2 separate regions of the Homo sapiens genome follow, and region 2 is linked to region 1. Evidence: fine-mapped expression QTL. Tissue or cell type: whole blood. Region 1 holds a variant in brackets; the other region holds the start of a gene. All regions are shown on one strand. Distances are between the middles of the regions.

Region 1 (8,102 bases):
GAAGACCCAGTTATATTCTGTATGAATTCTATAAAACATATGTTTGAATTGAATCATAGTTTCTTGTAGACCAGACCTTAAATCATTGAAGAAATATCCAAACAGAAATTGAGCAGCTGTAGAAATATCCAATAGAAAAGAAAATGAGATGAATTTGCAGAAGTAATGGAGTCTTTTATTGCAATGTCTTTCCAAACTTTATTGAAAATTTCCCAAAGGTCTTGGTTAATATTAAGAACAAATATTTGTGAATTTGGAAACTGCTCACTAACAAATAAAAGCAATTAACAAGACCATTTATGCTGGCAGTAATTATCATATAAACACAAAATTGTTTTATTGGTTAAACTGTTAGAACTCCAGCTGTCATTCCATATTAACAAATTTGATTTTTTAAAATTATATTTTCTACCCTTGATTTGAGTTTCTGGCTTGATAAATATTAATAAAGGAAGAGAACAAAGTTTTCATGGTTAGTTACTCTCAGTTGTCTACTTGCAGACTACCCACTGTCTGGAGTACTCAAGGTAGAGTGTTAATATCAAAACAACATTAACTCACTCCTTATAATGCGTTTGGATTCATCTTCCTATGTTCTTAATCCTGTGTACTCAAGGCTTTGGCATATTGGAGTATGGGAGTTGGAGCAGGGCCATTGCCCAAGGATGAGGACTGAAAATGACACTGAGAGGGTGGAGCAGACAGAGACAAAAGCTAACCGAATCATCATTATTGTGTTTGCTATCCCTTGTTATAAAGACGTTGGAAGATGGCAGACCCCTGCCTCCATAGATGAGCTCAGTGGTAACTGTGAGCATAAAACCTACTCGATTCACTCCATTTCTCACCCATTGACAATAAGTTAGGTATGGATGCATCAGGGTAGCTGAGGACCTGGTGAAATTCAGGCACAAATATTGCCAGCTATGTTTCAGGGAATGTGAATTCATTTAAATAACCTTATTCGAACATAGATAGGAAAGTTAATCTCCTGAAAAAAATCACAAATATGCATTTTTAAGCCAAATAGAAATGACTTTTTGAATTACCTGTTCTTTGGTTGATCTCCAAGATTGCAACCTCCTTTAATTTCCATAATGTGTTCATTCATTTATTTACTCATTTGCTCATTAGGCCTTTATTAAGTATATCTTTTGTGTCAGATACTATGCTAAGTGCCAGGAATCTTAAAACTATATCCTGAAAGCAATGGGGAGCCACTGGCTGATTTAAAGAAGCAGAGTGACAAGACCAACCTTCCTTTTTAGAAAGTGTACTTTGGCTACTATGTGGAAGCAGAATTGAAGGAGAGGGAAACTGGAGAACGGATGAACAGGTAAGAGGCTCCAGAAGCAATTCATTGTGAGAAAAGATGAGGCTGTGTGATGGACTTAATTGTATCCCCCTAAATTCACATGTTGAAGTCTTAGATCTCAATGCCTCAGAAAGTGACTGTATTTGGAGATAAGGCTTTACAGAGGTAGTGAAAGTAAAACTGAGGTCATATGGATGGGCCCTAACCAAATATAACTCATGTCCATAAAAAAAAAAAAGAGAGTAGGACATAGGTGCACACAAAGTGGAGACTATGTGAAGACAGAGGGAAAAGATAGCCCTCTACAAGCCAAGGAGAGAGGCTTCAGAAGAAATCAACCCTGCCGAAACCTTGATCTTGGACTTCTAGACCCTAGTACTGTAAGAAAATTAATTTTTGTGTTTGAGTCACCCAGCATATGGTACTTTGTCATGGGAGCCCTAGCAAATTAATACAGCCTTGGGAACAAGGTGAATTAGCACCTACAGGTCCCAGTTCATCAGATACCCCAGTGTAAGTCTGCCATTACATCTACTCAAGCTCATGTGAGGTGACAAAAAACCTAATCCTGTGTGGCAAGGAAAGATCAGGAACTGCAATATAAGAAAAGATGCAGCCAGGCATGGTGGCTCACACCTGTAATCCTAGCACTTTGAGAGGCCAAGGCAGGTGGATCACGAGGTCAGGAGTTCGAGACTAGCCTGACCAACATGGTGAAACCCCGTCTCTACTAAAAATACAAAAATTAGCTGGGCATGGTGGCGCATGCCTGTAATCCCAGCTACTCAGGAGGCTGAGGTGGGAAAATCACTTGAACCCAGGAGGTGGAGGTTGCAGTGAGCCACTGCATTCCAGCCTGGGCAACAGAGCAAGACTCCACCTCAAAAAAAAAAAAAAGAAAAGAAAAGATGCTCATTAATTTCCAAGCCTGGTTAATGCTTCCATGGACTAGCAGATGACAGGATACAAATCTTGTTTTGCTTTTTCCTGTTATTGGTGGAGGGAAATTTGAAATTGGTGTCATCTGCCCCTTCAGAAGATGGTTCATCTGGTATTTGCAAACTTGCTGCAGGCTTTCAAGTTCCTTCCACAACCATTCTGTTTGAGGCATCTGAAGGGCAAGTTTGGTCCCTAATCCTTGATTCCTCCATATTGTAAATGGCAGGCTTTTCCAATTGGTCCTGCTGCTGCTTTGTCTTTGAAAGTTGTGGAGAATGTGATGCCTCTAGATGTTTCCAAAAATGAAATGGAAATTTCACCTTAATTTTATGAAATGCATGTCTTTGCAAAAGGGTAAAGAAGGGAAATAATGATTTTTGAGCTATGGGCAGTATTCTGATGATTTCTGAACATTATCATGAGTTCTTGATACCTCCATTGTTGTTGGCGGGGATTTGAGTTTGAGTTGAGTGGAACTTCAGGTTTGTTTGGTTTGGTATTTACGTTTTTCCGTAGCTTTCCTACATATATATTCATTTCTGAATTCAAGTGGTTCATTTATTTCACACAAATAACTTTGGTTATGTGATTCAGTTTTTTGTTTTTGTTTTTATTTTTGTTTTAGATAGGGTCTTGCTCTGTCACCCAAGCTGGAGTACAGTGGCGTGATCATAGCTCACTGCTGCTTCGAACTCCTAGGCTCAGGTGATCCTCCCACCTCAGCCTCCCAAAGTGCTGGGATTACAGGCATGAGCCATCGCATCCAGCTCAAAATATTTTTAGGATCAATTTAATTCAAGGCCAAGCAAGTTGGTGTAGCTTATTATAGTTTTTGGTTTATGACTTATTTTTATTCAATGTCTTGGGTTTTATAAATAAAATCATAAACTTTAAAACTGTTCATAAAACTGTGAACTATATTTAAAAATCATCTGGCTGGCAACTCAGTTGGTTTTTATAATCTGAAAATTTATGCTTTTCTTCAACTCTGAGAATTTCTATTCTACTTTCCCATTATTACCTTCTTCTACTCTCTTTTCTTTCCTTTTGTAACTTCCATTAAGCAAATACTGGACCTTGGGGGATTTTGCCTACATGGCTTTCAACCATTTTCACATACTTTCCATCTCCTTTGTCTTTTGCCCGGTGTTTGGGGAAAATTTCTTTGGCTTCTGTTTCCACTAATTTGCCCTTCAAGTAGGTCTGTTCTGCTTCTCAACTAATGAATTTTCAATATCAGAAATGACTTTTTAAATTTCTAAGGTTTCTCACTGATTATTTGTTGTGGATGCAATATCCTTTCAAGACTTGCTGATTAAAATTAAATTATTTAACATTTATCTTGTTCCTTTTATTAACTTAGTTTCCTCTGATATTATTTCCTTCTATTAGTTGGGTTTGGTGCTTCTCTTTCATGGTATTGGTTCCCCTCTCCCCATAAGATATTTGGTGGTTGTCCTATCATCCCTTAATGTGGGAATGGGCTTGTCTCCTCTTTCTGCTTATCATAGCCTATCTTCAGGGGCTGTGAAGAAGGGTCAGGACATGCTATCCCAAGAGAGTGAATGGTTTCTGTCATTTCTTGGGGTCACTAGATCCCTGAGCTCTGCCCCTTGGGTCCCAGGATCCCCATTAACTTTTTTTTTAAGTCCTGCAGGCAAACACCTGATATTTAATGTGAGCAGGACAGAGGAGGCTCCTAAGTGAATTATTCTGTCTCAGGGCCCCTCCTCCTCTTGTATCCTTTAACTATTGCTTGCAACTTCCCTAAACTATTGCTCCTCCTGAATCTGTTTTGGTTTCCTCTGATTTTGTTTCTCTGTGAATCAGATCTTGCATCTTTTCTGTATCTCTGGATTTCTTGAACATTGTTGGAACACTGATCCCCTTTTCCTTATTTTCCTGTGCTTTTAGATGCCTGTTTCAGACATATCTTCTAATGAAATTTGGGGTAGAAGAGAAGCTAAATGCGTGTATTCAATCCACCATCTCCATCCAATCTTTACTTTTTAATTTATTTATCATCTCTACTTATTATTAAACAATACAAGCTTATTGTGAAAAACTCAAAGACTACAGAAATGGAAAGTGAAAGTTCCCTCTTATGTTAGATGATTCTAACATAAGTCTCAACTTATATCTTCTTGGCCTCACCTGTTGGTTTCAGCTAGACCTGAGTAGACAGTTCTGTGAAGGTTTACCCCCCACTCTCTGGCTGTCAACATCTATTCTCAAATGCACACCTTCTCTTCTGGCCCCAGAACTCTTCCAAATCTGCAGACTGCCTATGTGGAGCTTGCTGGGTAGCTCGGAAGTGTAGGTTTTCAACATGGGTGGGAGACCAGTGGGGGCAGTCCTTTGTCCAACCAGGATGAGGGTTAATCTCCTATCCTTCACATAGACAATTCCAAGAGGTATTCTATACTCTTCTGAGGAGGTCCCTCCAGACGTGATCCCTATTGCCCACAATGATGACCTTGATAACGAACATATGTATGTGTTTCCTTCTCCCTTCTTTTTTTTTTTTTTTTTTTGAAACAGAGTCTTGCTTTGTCACCCAGGTGGGAGTGCAGTGGCGTGATCTTGGCTCACTGCAGCCTATGCCTCCCAGGTTCAAGTGATTCTCCTGCCTCAGCTTCCCAAGTAGCTGGGATTACAGGTGCGCACCACCACACCCAGCTAATTTTTGTGTTTTTAGTAGAGATAGGGTTTTGCCATGTTGGCCAGGCTTGTCTTGAACTCCTGACCTCAAGTGATC[C/T]GCCTGCCTCGGCCTCCCAAAGTACTGGGATTACAGGTGTGAGTCACCATGCCCAACCTTTCTCCCTTCTTTTATTCTCCCAATTTCTCATTCCTGGCCACAGAGATCTGTTCCCCTTTCCCTATTATTTGACAATGCCCTTTCCTCACTGCAAGCCTAAATTTCCTCTCTTCCTCAGTTCTGATTTATCATTTCACTGTAACTCTATTAGCTGTAAAGCATTTGGGGATGCTGTCAGGATAACATGCTCTGTAGCAAATGAGGTTGTATTGAATTATTTAGCTTTCAGCTAAAGTGGAGATAACTAAAGCAGCTGAGCTGGTTTGTAAAATGTTGGGGTAATCTGTCTGCTGATTTGGAGTTTTATCATATTAATTTTTTCTTATGGTTGAAAATTATAAATTTTAAGGCTACAAAGAAAAATATGTATGCAACTATTCAGTTCAGTGCCACAGACCTATAGCTAAGGAATTATCTGGCTTGCATAGTATATAATTACGTAGCTGCAGAACCACCATTCTAGAGAACCATGAATTTATCTAATAAGTTTATTCATACAAGCTTTTAAAAAACCATAAATACATAATTTCCCTCCATTTTTTTCTAACAAAAATAGATGAAGGATTTCTTCTTGAGATATATAATAGTCTCAGCTTTTGAAGTTGGCCTGTTTTTCTTGAGCTTTCCTTGCCAGAATTTGACTTTTAAACATTTTTTTTCACAAAACAGAACTTTCTCTTTTTAACTCAGTAATAGAAAAATGCATTCTTAAATGTTGTCAACAAAGGGGAGGAGGGGATCACTGCGAATCTATCGATGACCATGAATGTTTTTGTATCCTCTTTCCCATATTACTAGTGTCTCTTGGAAAATTGAGCTGTAATAAGGATCCAGCCAAGAGGAGGGTGGAGTGAAGAATTCTGTGGCTCTGTAATACCTGGGGCGTTTGTCCCACTCAGCACATCTCAGTGTCTAAATACCCACCCTCAAGAAGTGGGACTGCAGCAGGAAGTGAAGTATCTTTGCATATGTTCAATATATAAACTAAACTCGAACATCTGGCAAACACCCCTTTCCTGGGTGAATTCTGGAAAACAGCACAATTATAATCCCAAGCAAATAACTCAGGAGTAAGACTGTTCCCTTGTTAAGAACACCAGGCAGCATCAGTAAAAGTTAAAACTTCTTCTGCATCTATGCGCTTTTAATCTCCACGGCCATTTCCATAATACCTGAGATTACCTGCGTTGATAGCTGGTGAGAAATCATCCCAGGCACCGCAGGTGGAGAAAAGAGATGAAAGCTACCTCAAGGCGTACACGTAAACCTTACTGAACAATGACCTTGATCGTTAGAAAGTCAAGAAAATGTACTGCCTTGCAAGCTGCCGGTGTTCTATTGAGTTTCTCTCCGGGGGCAACTCGGAGATGCCTTTTTGGCACCATCGGTTCTAGTATTTCCTCTGGCCTGCTGCGCCGCGCCTCATCCAGGCTTGTAGTGAGGCACCCCCACTCGCCCGGAGACCCGGGCCGGCCAGGAGGTGCCAGTGGGCAGGTGTGGCAGCCTGCCTGTTGATTACAGTCCCTACAATGTGCGAGCTCCTTGGGACTGCAGGCTGCGCGCCGCCAGCTTTGCCTGGTTCGTCCTGATTACACTAGGTTTTCGGGCAGAAACAGCGACACTGAGCTCGGGCTGGGGGTGGGGCCCTCGGGCCCAGTGCCCGCCCCCTGCCCTCCCACCGCCAGCCGAGAGAAGCCCGCCCGGGAGCGCGCTTTCTAATGCACCAGCCCCCGGGAACAATCTGTCCCTCCCAAACCCGCCACGGCGGGGGTTCACCTCCCGGGTACCCGCCGCGCCCACCCTATGGCCTAAATGTCTTTTCATATATTTTAAAAACTGAACTGTGTGCAGTGGGGATGCAGGGCGGGAAAGGCTGGAGGGCTCATTTTCGCCACCAGGCTTGCCTCTCCGGGCGCACGAATTAGGCCCGAGCTAGAGTCCAACCCCCTTCCCGCCTCAGGGGGCTCGGGGTGGCGCGGGGTTAGGGGCAATGAACGACGATGGAGGCGCCCCAGGCTCAGCGGCGGGCGGGGAGGCAGAGGCGGGTTCCAGGAGCCGGGCTGAGGCCCGGCAGGTGCCCCCAGGCGCGGAGGCTGATTGGCAGGTGCGTGAGTGGGTGGGGAAGGCGGGGGCTGGGCTTGGCGCTGCGGGAGGCTGCGGCCCCGCCTCCCCGCCCCCGCCGCGGGACTATCTGGTCCCGGCAGCAGCGATGTCCCCCGGCAGGAATGTCCCTCCTCAGATAATGTTATTTATATCTCTGGGCGGGTCCGCGGCTCGGCAGCACCAGGCGCCCGGCGGCCGCTGTGCCAGGAGCCCCGCGCTGCCCTCCTCCCCCTGCGCCGCCGCCGCCGCCACCCCCGGGCTCGGGGTGGCCCCCGCTTCAGTCCCAGGGCAGGTGAGTCCCAGGAGGGCCCGGCGGCCAAGGGAGCTGGGTGCGGGTGCGCAAGGCTGGGACGCGCGGCGCCAGCTCAAAGGAGCGCTGGGCCCAGGGGGCGCCTGACGCGCAGGGCCCAGAGGACCGGGTGGGAGTCCAGCCCCGGTTGTCGGGCGTGGGGTGGGAGGGGTGCGGGGCCCGGGAAGCCCGGCAGCTGCGGCAAAGATCATCCCGGGACGCGGGAACGCGCGCGGGCGTCCGAGGCACTTGGTGCTAGCTTTGGAGAGCGGGATCCCGGAGAGTCCGTCACCCCGGGGCGCAGGGAGAGGGTGACGGGGGTGCGTGTTCTCGTCCGCCTTCTCCAGGACCCCGGCCTGGGAGCGAAGGGGATTGCGCCTCTAGCCCGTCCGACCGCAGCGCTGCTCTCTGCCTTTTTTTGTCCGGCTTCTCAGCCTTGTGGCCGCTCATATCCCTCTTCTGGGGAACTTGGCTGCGCTCTCCTCGGGCCACCCAGCGCCCAGGCAGGAGGGACAGGTGAGGGCAGCAGAGGGGGCCGGGCCTCCGGGTGCTGGGAGCCACCCAGAGAGTGACCCCGTGTAGACCGAGGGAGGAAAGATCCTAGTGCCCCAAGCCATACTTCAAGGACCCCTAGTCTT
Region 2 (8,102 bases), 100 kb before region 1:
TCTGCCCAGAATACTCTTGCACCAGATCCATGATGGCTTCCTCCCTCATCTGAGACTTCAGGTCTCAGATCACATGTGTTGTCACCAGAGGGTTCCCCTTAACACCTTATATGAAGACCTCCCCTGCTCCCACCCCACCCATTCCTGACACACCCTATCCCCTCTATCCCAAGGTGTTACTCTCCACAGCGTTTCTAATTAACATTTTATATTGAGATAGCTATAGATATTAACTCTTTTAATTGACTGCCTCATTGGCCTAGAAACAGTTTCATAAAGGCATCAACTTGGCCTCTTTTGTTTAACAACTTATGCCGAGTGTCTAGAACAGTGCCTGGCACGTAGAAGGCGCTCAAGTATTTGCTGAATGAATGAGAATCAACGAATGGAACAGACGACTCACAGCTAAGGACTCCTTCCACTATTTATAGGTTTAACTCCTATTACCAAATTATTGCTTAACAAATAAACCGAGTCTTCTGATAATCAGATAGGAAGCAGGTAACAAGCATTTATTTTTTGTTTGTTTTTTTTTTTAATTTGAAAAGCTTTCATCTTAAATAGACACAGGGTCTTGCTATGTTGCCCAGGCCAGTACCAAAATCAGTATAGTCGTTTTTTGTTTTAAGAGACAGGGTTTTACTCTGTTGCCCAGGCTAGAGTACCGTGGCTCGATCATGGCTCATCTGTGAACTTCTGAGCTCAAAAACAATTCACCCACCTCAGCTTCCCAAGTAGCTGGGACTACAGGTGCATGCCACCACGCTCAGCTACTTTTTTTTTTTTTTTTTTTTTTGGTAGAGACAGGGTCTTGCTATGTTGCCCAAGTTGGTCTCTTGGGCTCAGGTGATCTTCCCGCCTCGAACTCCCAAAGTGCTGGGATTACAGGTGTCAGCCATCAATTTGTTTTTACTGGCAATGGCACAAAATTGAGCTATCAGTAAATGGAAGCTTTAGTTAAAACTGAAAGAGTACTAGTATATCCTCTGTAAACAACTCCTCCTAACAAGGTTGTTACTTTTGATGAATGTATCATTAACCTACCAATGTGGTAGGTCTCTAAACCTCAGTCTTCTCATCCATAAAAAGTGAAAGGATTGAATGATACCACATATGGAGAGCATTTAGCACTGTGCTGAGACTCAATAAATGGTCACTAACATGATTATTAAAACAGTGAGGAAGGCCACAAAAATGAGATACAACATTATCATCCTACTACCTGAAACTGTTCATCCTAGACTCTAATAATGTGTGCTGGAATAACAACATGAAAAAGAAATATAAGATTCTTTACTGTCTGCCATACCGTTGGGTCTAGATTTGAAAGATACTCGCACCAGGAGCAGTGGCTCACGACTGTAATCCCAGCACTCTAGGAGGCCGAGGAGGGCAGATCACTGGAGGTCAGGAGTTCAAAACCAGCCTGGCCACATGGTGAAACCTGTCTCTACTAAAATACAAAAATTAGCCAGGCGTGGTGGTGGGCGCCTGTAGTCTCAGCTACTCTGGAGGCTGAGGCAGGCGAATGGCGTGAACCCGGGAGGCGGAGGGTGCAGTAAGCCAGTGCATCCCAGCCTGGCAACAGGGCGAGACCCCATCTCAAAAAAAAAAAAAAAAAAAAAGGCAATCCCATAGTCTAAGGTCAGATAATAAGTAAAACACTTGACCTGAATCAACTCAGCAATCCATCATTTAGGAATTCTGCAAAGATCCTGTAGGTTTTTCATCAATGGGAAATTTCTTTACAATCTTTTGCAGTCAGCCTTCCCTGGGACACACTGGTAGGCAAACCAACCTGGAGAATTAGCTAGATTCGAGAGGTGAGGATTTCCTTTGCTACCCTAAATTCCATGAAGTTTAAATCTCCAGTTAAAATATTTTCTCTGCTACTTTGTGAATAACCACGTATCAAGCCCTTGTTTCTGTTATAAATTTATAATTCTATTTAGTCATAACTGTACAATAAAACAATTATTGTTACTAATTTTGCCAAAGTACAGGCTTCCAACTTAAAGTAGGAAATACAAAACAGGTCTCTCCAAGGTAAAGCCTGGAGACTGATCTCACTAAGAGATCTTATTTCAGTAAGCAGCAGAATGTTCATTTATTAGTGTTAAGAATTATCCTAACCACTTCTCCTAGGGACAGATGGATAAACAGTTCCACATAGCAACCTTGGGAACAATTCCAATTAGGGAATAAGAAGAAAAACAAAACTATGGTTTTGGGCATATGAATATATACTCATTCGCCAAACACTTTTCAAAATGATAGGTTCGATCCTACTTCTAGGCCTTAGGGAATGATTAGTAGTCCAAAATCCATTCTTTCTATTAGATCACTTTCCAAACTGTTTTCCTGCCTGTCCCCCAACCAGGCTCCTGGTCAGGAGCTGTTTTATTTCCTTGTACTTCCATCGTTTAATATTGTGTCCGACACGTAGCTGGTGCTCAAATGGCTGAATGACTACCAAAATGCCCACCCACGAGGCGGGCCCCCAAACCTGGCACTGTAGGTCAAAAATTAAACAGATCGTGAAACGGCATGACAGCAGCCTGGCCCTGCTCTCTGCCTCCAGAAGCTGAGGGCAGGTTGGGAAAAGTGCACTATGCACCCCAGAACCTCCCGAAGTACTGGCAGAACAGAGTGGGCTGTCCGACCCGCACGGGCTGCCTCTGTCCTCCAGGCATAGAACACGATTCTTCTCGTTCTTTAGGGCAGAGGGGACTCGGCTACTGCCCTCTCCTCCAAGCCCAACCTTGAAACGACCCTTCCCCAAGCTGGCCGCGCAAACGCTCCACGACGAAGCCCAAGCCTGGGCGCCCGGAGCTTCCCAGAGGAAAGGCACCGCGGTGCGCTGTGGGAGTCGTAGTTCCCCGGTGAGTTCCGCACCCGGGCGGCCCTACGAACGGGACTCGCGCTCCCAGAACACATCGCGCGGGCGCCTCGCCCAGTCCTGCCACCTCACCTGTTCTATGGACGTGACTGTTTCCACCGAGTCGTCCTGCAACCGCTCTCGCGCGTGCTCGGGCCTCAGACTGTACAGCGGCTCTGACCAGACGGGGGAGGAAGATGGAGGGCAATAGTAGGTGAAAGAACTCGGAGAAGCCATGATCAGGAGAGCAGCAGACAGTGTGTAGGACTCTGCTTCGTTAAGCAACAACGCGCATTGAAACTCGAGCGGGCTAAAGCGCTACGGCGAGCGGATAGAGGCAAAAAGATTTTGAACGCGAATGTCTCCTCCCGCCTACCCGTCTTTCGAGTGAGTTACTGAGATGCTGCCGCCCCCCATTGGGCAGAGGAGCTGCTGCAAGAGCGTAGAGTCCTGAAGCGCAAGGGTGTCTACATCCGAATTTCATTTCAGCGAGATGGCGTAGGACGCCTCGGTTTGTTACGCAAATTGTTAAAGAACTGTAACATTCTGCTAATTCTCACTTAATTGTAATGCAATTGTTTGCAATTTCAGGTGCCCAAGAACCCAATGAATGTTAAGTTTGAAAGCATTTCTGACAGCTCTACTGATTTGCCTCAGTCAGGCAATTACTAAAAGAATTATTGTGCACCTTGGGGTACTTGACAGCCTCCCAGGAGAAGGCAGCAGCTGCTCAAACGTGCAAGGACGCCGTCTCAGTATCACTCAGTGATGGAGGGAGGGGGGTATTATGATTTTCTCCTGTCTCTTGGAGGTTACACTGCAGTAGCGAGAACTGAAATGCAGTACAAGGAACAAGGATAAGTGAAATAGACAGTCAGTCCGCAGATATTTATGGAACACCTGCTATGTGTCAGGCATTGTGCTAGGTTCTAGGAATACAAAAGTGAACAAAACGAAGTCCCTTCCCTTGGAAACCTTACATTCTAAGAAAATCGACAGAATTGAATGTATCCAACGCAATAAATATATGAAGACTTGTGATAAATGAGATGAAGGAAAATAACAGGGTCTATGAGAGAGACTAAAGGGGTAAGAAACTAATTGAATTGTATGGTCAGGCCAAGCCTCTCTAAATGACCTTTCATTTGAGATCCGAAGGATGACGAGGAGTCATCCAGAAGAACAGTATGGGAAAGAACTCCTGAAAAAGGAAGAAACAGCAGCTTTTAGAAGACATGTGCTGGGCACGGTGGCTCACGCCTGTAACCCCAGCACTTTGGGAGGCTGAGGCAGGAGGATCACTTGAGGAGTTAGAACATCCTGGGCAACATAGCAAGACCTCATCTCTATTAAATATCAAAAAAATTAGCCGGGCGTGGTGGCGCATGCCTGTAGTCCCAGCTGCTCGACAGGCTAAGGTGGGAGGATCTCTTGAGCCCAAGAAGTCGAGGCTGCAGTGAGCTATGATTGTGCCACTGCACTCCAGCCTGGGTGGCAGAGCGAGACCCTGTTTCAAAAAAAAAAAAAAAGCAAAACAAAAAAACAAACAAAAACCATAGGCTCAAGTGACCCTCCTGCCTCAGCCTCCTGAGTATCTGGAACTACAGATGCTCACCACCACGCCCAGCTAGAATAAAAGAAATTCTTATTGATTCTTATGGAGTGGACTTACTCATCACACTTGCCTCCAGAACAACCAAGTTTAAAGTTGTGATTTTTAGGAAAACGCTGCTACCTTTGGACAAGCAATAGAAGAGAATTTATTTTAGGGCATGCATCAAAAGTACTACACCAAAAATTATAATACCAAGAGATTAAACTGGGGGAGTTGTATGTAGGAGATTATAGAAGGTATGATAACAGACATTCCGGGTACACTTGGAGACAAGCTTTACTTCCTGCTCAGAGCACTTCACTCTGTTCCCACTCCATTCCATGTCACATGTCTAGGATCCAGGGATTATAGACCAGAGTGACATTTGACAACCAGCCATTCCCCTGTTCTCAGTCTCTGGTAGTAAATAGAAGCACTCACAAAAATTTCAAAGATGAGGCTGGGCTGGCCTAAAGACCTCAGGTGGATAAATACTACCACCATGTCCATTTTAGTGGTACTGTTGCTGAACTAAGACCTAGAGGCACCAGAATATTACCAAATCTGGAAATAAGGGGACAGTATGGGTTAGGACCCATGGATAAGGCTGCACAATGTGAAATGGTCTCATTATACTGCCCCCTGTATTGGCATCTTACTGTCTTTCCCTTAGTTATATTTTGGGAAATAAATGGTCTGATAAGGTCAGGGTTATATCTAAGGATTCAGCCTTTGTCACAAAGAGTTTCTTTGCAGGAGAGCTGGAAACTTAACGCTTCAATCCTGAAGACTGTGCTATTGAAAGAATAGCTGGGACAGTTTTGTGACAAATTGTTGCATCTGTCACAGATGCACCTAAAGCAATTGCAAACTGTATTTTAGAAATAAAAATTCATCTCTGAAATTCAGTCTCCTCTGCAGTGGGATCCAAAAGATGTGAATAGGAACATGGGCAAGAGTCTCCGGCAGGATAGTGTGTTCTCATTCAATTAATGTTTATTGAGTACAGGGTAAGTGCTGGGCACTGAGCTAAGTGCTAAGGAGACAGCAGTGAACAAGCCAGACACAGTCTCTGCCATTATGGGTCTCATGACTTACCAGAAAAAACATTAAACAGTAATGACAGAATTGACTCTTTCATGACAGTTGGGAGAAATGGGATGAGGCAGAAAGAAGCATGGAGTGTGTGAGCTTGCATGATGGGGGGACCCTAAGGTAGCCTGGAAGGTCTGGAAAGACTCCCATGAGGAAGTGAGTTAATTAATCCAGGGGATGAGAACATCCCAGGCAGAGGAAACCCAGTGACAACACCAAATCAAGTGAAACCAGCAATGAAAAATATGTGGGGTTTGTACTCCATGTAAGCATCAAGAAGACCTGGATCAAATAGCCCACTAGTTGTCCCTCCTCTTGGTTTAATAAAACCACTCATTCAAGAAGCAGAATGAACATAAATATTAATGGTGCTATAGAGAATGATATATTTAGAGAGAAAACTCTTAGTCATGATAATAGCAACTCCAGCTTGGACTGCAGATGGTTTATGTTTATTTTACTCACATGCCTGATACTCTTTTCTAAATTAAACTGATCGTGTTTCTTTAAAAATAATATTAAATGTGGACCGTGCTGTTTTATACTTTTAAGAGCAAGAAAAAGAAAAAAGTAATGGTCTAAATGAACCCCTAGAGGTCGCTTCCGACCCTGGAGTGCGTTTAGGGAGTAAGTTTTAAAACTGCTCTCACCGTTCTCCCTGTTTTCACTCATACAAGCCGTATGTCGGAATGAATTGTTTCCTTTAATATCTTGTGAAACTGTGTAGTAATACATATTGGAACATTTGGAAAATGGAAAGAACTCATCTATTATCCCGCTAGGTAATTAACTTCCTCCCCAAGTTTACTGCCCACCATCATCTGTGCCCTCCTACTCGGCGGTCCTGTCCCTCCTATTCCCCTAGATGGAATGACTGCCCCATCTCCTACCTAGGACCAGGTCATCTCCCTCCCCTCACGCGCCACCCCCCAAAGACTGTCGCAATTCTCCCTTTCCTTTCCTAAAACACCAAATTTTTCCTCTACTTGATCATCCAGATCTCCCTCAAGCATGCCATTTTCTCATTCTTGGCAGCGTGGAGGGTGAGGGGCTTTTTTTTTTTTTTTTTTTTTGAGACAGAGTCTCGCTCTGTCGCCCAGGCTGGAGTGCAGTGGCGCGATCTCGGCTCACTGCAACCTCCACCTCCCGGTTTCACGCCATTCTCCTGCCTCAGCCTCCCAAGTAGCTGGGACTACAGGCGCCCGCCACCACGCCCGGCTAATTTTTTTTTTTTTTTTTTTTTTTTTAGTAGAGACGGTGTTTCACCGTGTTAGCCAGGATGGTCTCGATCTCCTGACCTCGTGATCCGCCCGCCTCGGCCTCCCAAAGTCCTGGGATTACAGGCATGAGCCACCGCGCCTGGCTATGAGGGGGTGGGGGGGGGTGCATCTCTAACCCTCTTGATTCCACTCCTTCTCCAGCTACCTCCCGATGACTCATTGGCGGAGACCCTTGAAAGATTTGCTACTACTAACGTCTCCAGGTCCTCTCTTCCAACTCTCTCAAGCCCATTCTAATCAGGTTTTCCAATCGTTTCTTATCAACTCTCCATTAAATTCCATATCGCCAAATCCAAGGGCCAGGTCTCAGTCCTGATCTCAAGTCTTCCTTCTTGACTTCCCAGCAATATTTGCACAGTTGATCATTTCCCTTCTTGAAACACATTGTCCTTGTGGTGCCTCACACTGGTTTTCCTCCTTCCTTGCCTTTCTAATATCTTGGATACCTTAGCTTGGGGTACCCCAGGATTCAGTCCTCAGACTTCTTATCTGTCTGCACTAACTTCCCTGTCAGCTCAGGCAGTCTCAATGTTTTAAATAACACTTATAGGTTGAAAACTCCCTAATTTGTATCTCCAACCTGGATCTCTCCTGAACTCCAGAGTTCATGTCTAATGTCTATTTGCATTTCCACTTAGATCTCCAATAGGCATCTCAAACTTAACATATCCACAACAGAGCTGCTGGTCTTCCCTTCCAAACTTGTGCACTCAGTCTCCCCGATCTCTATTATGATAACTCCATCCTTCCAGTTACTCCAAATACCTTGGAATCATTCTTGCTGCCTCTCTTTTTCTCACTCCTTGTAAGTTCTGTTCTAAATATATCTAGCATCTGATCACTGCTTACCAATCCCACTGCCAGTGTCCTGGTCCAAGCCACCATCATCTGTTACTTGGATTCTTACACTAATCTCTTAACTGTTCTCCCTCTTTTCACTCTTGTCCCCCTGTACCCTAATACAAACTTGCTATAGACTGAATGTTTAGGTGCCCCCAGTAGTCATATGTTGAAACCTAATCCCCAATATGAAGGTGTTTGAAGGTGGAGCCTTTGGTAGGTGTTTGGGTCATGAGGGCCGAGCTGCCATAAATGGGATTCATGTCCTTATAAAAGAGACCCCACAGAGCTCCCTCACTCCTTCTGCCATATAAGGACACATAGAGAAGGCATCACCTATGAGCCAGGAAGCAGGCCCTCACCAGACACCGAATCTGCAGGTGCCTTGATGTTGGACTTTATTTCTGTTGTTGAC

What was found. PIP is the estimated chance that this variant, and not a neighbour inherited with it, causes the effect.
Region 2: it holds the start of FNTB, and the variant in region 1 is fine-mapped to the expression of FNTB in whole blood (TOPMed, PIP above 0.99).

The regions. Positions count from the first base shown.
Region 1 is chr14:64,879,157-64,887,258 of GRCh38, reverse strand. SPTB (spectrin beta, erythrocytic) reads left to right here and starts at 7,352. Exons shown (of 36, transcript NM_001355436.2): 1 at 7,352-7,467. It overlaps LOC105370534 (a long non-coding RNA gene), which reads left to right. Exons shown (of 3, transcript XR_943942.3): 2 at 1,269-1,336; 3 at 5,871-6,378. RefSeq lists silencers at 6,732-6,811, 6,882-7,021, 7,072-7,241. The variant C/T (reference allele first, on the strand shown) is at 5,013.
Region 2 is chr14:64,981,967-64,990,068 of GRCh38, reverse strand. FNTB (farnesyltransferase, CAAX box, subunit beta) reads right to left here and starts at 3,174. Exons shown (of 12, transcript NM_002028.4): 1 at 2,972-3,174. The coding sequence starts at 3,115. All of the region lies in intron 3 of CHURC1-FNTB (CHURC1-FNTB readthrough), which reads right to left. LOC107984655 (a long non-coding RNA gene) reads left to right here and starts at 2,956. Exons shown (of 2, transcript XR_001750792.2): 1 at 2,956-3,389; 2 at 3,470-4,530. RefSeq lists an enhancer at 8,045-8,102.